2 separate regions of the Homo sapiens genome follow, and region 1 is linked to region 2. A link means that fine-mapping ties the variant in region 2 to the expression of a gene that starts in the linked region. Tissue or cell type: skeletal muscle. Region 2 holds a variant in brackets; the other region holds the start of a gene. All regions are shown on one strand. Distances are from middle to middle.

What was found. PIP is the estimated chance that this variant, and not a neighbour inherited with it, causes the effect.
Region 1: DRC4 starts here. The variant in region 2 is fine-mapped to the expression of DRC4 in skeletal muscle (GTEx, PIP 0.98).

The regions. Positions count from the first base shown.
Region 1 is chr16:90,021,589-90,024,190 of GRCh38, forward strand. DRC4 (dynein regulatory complex subunit 4) reads left to right here and starts at 1,092. Exons shown (of 11, transcript NM_001481.3): 1 at 1,092-1,136. The coding sequence starts at 1,134.
Region 2 is chr16:89,073,276-89,075,877 of GRCh38, forward strand. It overlaps LOC105371412 (a long non-coding RNA gene), which reads left to right. Exons shown (of 3, transcript XR_933889.3): 3 at 85-2,602. Among named protein-coding and RNA genes, the nearest start is that of ACSF3, 19 kb to the right of the region's middle. The variant T/C (reference allele first, on the strand shown) is at 1,471.

The DNA.
Region 1 (2,602 bases), 950 kb after region 2:
GGGCTGGGCGTGGGGCTCACGTGCTCCCAGCACTTTGGGAGGCCGAGGCAGGAGGATCACTTGAGGCCAGGAGTTTGAGACCACTCTGGGCAATAAAGCAAGACCCCGTCTCTATTAAAAACTTAAAAAAAAAAGCTGGGTATGGTGTCTCACACCTGTAGTCCTGGCTTCTCAGGAGGCTGAGGTGGGAGGATTGCTTGAGCCCAGGAGGTCGAGGCTGCAGTGAGTTGTGATCACAGCCTAGGCGACAGAAGGAGACCCTGTCTCCAAAAAAAAAAAAAAAAAAAAGCACCTGTTTATGACAAACTCAGCTTTCTGGGTGACATAGATGGTTGTATGTAGGTAACAGGGTGGTTTCACGGATGGCAGATTCATTTTAGAAATTGTAAAATGGCTAGCAGTTTTCAGAACAAGAGATTAGTTAGAAAAGGAAAGTGGCAGCTGTTTGTTTTCTGCAGGGCCTGTCGGGAAGCCTCTGGTTTCTTTTCATCCGTGAGGAGTGGGGAGGAGGCCTCTTCAGGAAGAGCAGTTTATTTTTGTGAAAGGAATACTTACTGATTTCAAACATTTGGAACTAAACTGGAACGTATTTTTCTTTCCGATTTCTGCGTTTTTGAGGTGTGTGTAAACCCACCAGCGCAGCAGCTGGGAGGGCCCTTCAAAGGTGGGCGGGTGGGGTGAGTGAGGCCCAGGGGATAGAGTGTTTGCCCAGATTTGAATCTCATTTGGGGAAAGTTTCAGAGGCTTGGGTGGCTGATTGATCATTCCTTCAATGGTCCTTCATCAGCACGTCTTTACTGAGCACGTGCTGTGTGCTGTTCTAGGCGCTGAAGGATAGAAGTGAAGGGTTCCCCCCTCGTGGAGCTTAGGTTCCAGCAATAAGCAAAACATGCCCTGCAGCGAAAGGCTTCTGGGCTGCCGGCGACATTTTCCCAACGTTCACAACCGGGTTCCTTCCGGACGCCCGTCTCTAGGGACGCACTCCCGCCTTTGGCAGGGCCGCTGCCCGGCGGAGTCTCGCGAGGATCTTGTGACTTATCGCGGCATCGCCCAGCGGTTGCCGGGAAACGGCGTGGCTTCCGGGGGCGGGCGCCCTGGTCCCGGAGTCGCCGCTGGGCCTGTCCGCTGGCGTCATGGTGAGCAGGGGCGGGAGCGGGGCTGGGGTCCTCGGCAGGGGCCCGGAGACCTCGGGGCAGGGAGGCCTCGGTACACGGAGACCCTGGGAATGGGAGGCCTGGAGCGCTGGGTTTCTGGAATTGAGAGCTCGGTGCTCTTGTGGGGGTCTCCGTGGGGCAAACTCAGGATGCTCCCGGCCCCGGGGCCTGGCAGCACTCGGGACTGAGACCTGGGCTGTCCAGAGCCCTGTGCTCACAGGGGTGGTCATAGAACGCCCAGGGCCCGGGGTCGGCGGCGCACGGTCCCCAGAAGAGTGAACATGCGTCAAGGGGACTCTCATCCTGGAATGGCAGACTCGGTCTGTTGGATCCCTGGGACCTAGGGTTTCAGCTCACGAGGCTTTGCAGAGCACCAGGGTCCCCATGGAATAGAGCCGGAGGCAGGAATTACCCTAAGACCTTTGGTCTCCCGGATGGAGAGCCTGGGGCACACCAGAGTGGCTAGAGATCCCTCTACACCAAGGAGGCCCGGACAGGTCCAGTGCCCTTGGAGTGCCCAGGGCACAACCTTGGGATACAGGAACCACTGTTCCCTTGGAAAGCCTGGCAGGAGTCAGGCCCAGACCGAGAAGAGGAAGGCGGAGCTCGTGGCCTCATCAGCTCCATGTCTGTCTTTCTCTTGTAAAGGGCTCTCCCTTTGTGGTACAGGAATTGTCAGTAACTCAATTTCTGGGCAGGTGTGGCAGGGTGGGTTTCAGCTGGTGGGGGGAGGAAAGCTCTGGGAGCCCCACCAAGTCCCTGCAGCTGGCTGTGAAGGTCCCAAATGCTAAGTAATGCTGAACCTTCCTCCACTGCCTTCAGGGCTTTGTGATGAGGTAGCCTTCTTGGAGTGGAGGGATTAAAAAGAGAGCAGTACATTACGAATTAAATTTAAGTAGATGGGTTTTCTGACCCAGGAAGGGTCTTCTGAAAACCGACTATGAAAGAAACTACCAAACTAGGCCAGGAGTCTGGGCGCGGTGGCTCACGCCTGTAATCCCATCACTTTGGGAGGCCGAGGCAGGCGGATCATGAGGTCAGGAGATCCAGACCATCCTGGCCAACATGGTGAAAATCCATATCTATTAAACATACAAAAATTAGCTGGGTGTGGTGGCGTGTGCCTGTAGTTCCAGCTACTCGGGAGGCTGAGGCAGGAGAATCACTTGGACCTGGGAGGCGGAGGTTGCAGCGAGCCGAGATCGCACCACCGCACTCCAGCCTGGCAACACGTCTCTTAAAAAAAAAAAAAAAAAGCAGGGTGTAGTGGCTGACGCCTGTAAACCCAGCACTTTAGGAGTCCAAGGTGGGTGGATCACTTGAGGCCAGGAGTTGGAGACCAGCCTGGCCAACATGGTGAAACCCTGTCTTTACTAAAAATACACACACACACACACTCACACACACACACACACAAAATTAGCCGGGTGTGGTGGTACGCACCTATA
Region 2 (2,602 bases):
CAATCCTCCCACCTTAGCCTTCTGAGTAGCTGGGACTGCAGGTGGGCACCACCACGCCCAGCTAATTTTTAAATTTTTTTATAGGGACGGGGTCTCGACCTGGACCAACCCAGGCTGGTCTCAAACTCCTGGGCTCAAGCAATCCACTTGCCTAAGCCTCCCGAAGTGCTGGGATAACAGACGTGAGCCGCCACACCCGGCCTTCACATGGTTTGAGCCGCCGCACCCGGCCTCTCACATGGTTCTTCTCACGGGCGCTCCCCACATGTGCGGACCCCTCCTTCGTGGCCTCCAGCTTCTATTTAGAGAGGGTGTGACACGCTGAGATCTTTCACACGGGTGGTGACGGGACTGAATCGAGTTGCAGGACGCCAGCGGGTATGAGAGCTGCTGCTGTGGAGAACGGCAGCACCATTTCCACACCCACGTGTGGCACTTGGTCACGGCCCATGCGGGAAACAACTACACCCACCTATTTCCCTCCCAGAAAACCTACGTTTTTCTTCCCAAGACAGACACTGTGTGCTCACAACACCCTGTTGCTGCCTTTCCTGAGTAGTATGTGTGCAGGAGTCCTCACAGCAGCCGTGTCGCAGGGAGCAGGCGCCACGGCCTTGGAAGCCAGCACAGTCAGCGAAATTCCGTAGGGAGCTGGGACTGACACGGCCCAGTCATGTCATGGATGAGCCATGTCATGAACGACTCATGCATGCACCAGTCACGTGAGGACCTGTCACGTGTGGACCTGTCATACATGCACCAGTTGAGTGTGGACCTGTCATGTGTGAACTTGTCACGTGAAGACCTGTCACATGTGAACCTGTCACGAGGACCTGTCACGTGTGGACCTGTCACGTGTGGACCTGTCACGTGAGGACCTGTCACGTGTGGACCTGTCACGTGAGGATCTGTCGTGTGGTCCTGTCGTCTGTGGGCCTGTCACGTGAGGACCTGTCATGTGTGGACTGTCACGTGTGGACCTGTCACGTGTGGACTGTCACGTGTGGACCTCTCATACATGCACCAGTCACGTGTAGACCTGTCACGTGTGAACCTGTCGTGTGGTCCTGTCGTCTGTGGGCCTGTCACGTGTGGATCTGTCACGTGTGGACCTGTCATACATGCACCAGTCACGTGTGGACCTGTCGTGTGGTCCTGTCATCTGTGGGCCTGTCACGTGTGGACCTGTCACGTGAGGACCTGTCACGTGTGGATCTGTCACGTATGGACTCTCACGTGTGGACCTGTCATACATGCACCAGTCACGTGTGGACCTGTCACGTGTGAACCTGTCGTGTGGTCCTGTCGTCTGTGGGCCTGTCACGTGTGGATCTGTCACGTGTGGACTGTCACGTGTGGACCTGTCATACATGCACCAGTCACGTGTGGACCTGTCGTGTGGTCCTGTCGTCTGTGGGCCTGTCACGTGTGGACCTGTCACGTGAGGACCTGTCATGTGTGGACCAGTCA[T/C]GTGAGGACCTGTCACGTGTGGACTGTCACGTGTGGACCTGTCATACATGCACCAGTCACGTGTAGACCTGTCACGTGTGAACCTGTCGTGTGGTCCTGTCGTCTGTGGGCCTGTCACGTGTGGATCTGTCACGTGTGGACTGTCACGTGTGGACCTGTCATACATGCACCAGTCACGTGTGGACCTGTCGTGTGGTCCTGTCATCTGTAGGCCTGTCACATGTGGACCTGTCACGTGTGGACTGTCACGTGTGGACCTGTCATGCATGCACCAGTCACGTGTGGACCTGTCACGTGTGAACCTGTTGTGTGGTCCTGTCGTCTGTGGGCCTGTCACGTGTGGACGTGTCACGTGTGGACCCGGCTGAAGGCAGGATGCCTCAGCCAATCCTATGCCTGGGCAGGGCGGGGGATGCCTCTGCATTTTCTGAGCCCCATGGCCCTGCAGTGCTGCTGGGTGGCTGTCACAGACCCAGGCCAGCCCCTCCTCCCAGGCAGGCAGCTGGAGCTGCAGGGGAGGGTGTCACGGCCAGCCCAAGAGGCCTCATCCCTGCTACCGGGTACCTGCCGTAGCTATGTCCAGCCCAGGTCACTGAGTGTGTAAACACACCTCACGTCCGCGTCGAGAAGGCGTCACCAGTGCCTGCTGAACAAAGAAGGTCTGGCCCAGTGTGGCTGCAGCCAGGAGGCCAAGGAGACCAGTGAGAGCACCGCCCTCGCCACTGACGCTCTTGCTGGGCTCATTGTTGTGCTGGGCCCAGTGGAGCAAAAGACAGGCCTCCAGCCGGGGCACCTCCCAACAACTCTGCACCCTTGATTGAAATGCAATGTCTGCGGCTGACGGCCACGTGACTGCAACCCACCCTCCCGGCTGCCGATTAATTTTACCTTTTGTGCTGCCAGCTGCAGTGGGTTCATGGTGAGAGCTGAGTTGATGCATGCGAGTGCGAGGGTGTGTTAATGTGTGCACATGTGTGACTGTGTGAGGGTGTATATGTGTGTGTACATACATTGTGTGCATGCGTGTGAGTGTGTACACTGTGAGCACATCTGTGAATGTATGCGGGTGTGTCCCTATGAGCACGTGTGTGTGCACGTGTGACCGTGTGAGGGTGTATATGTGTGTGTGCAT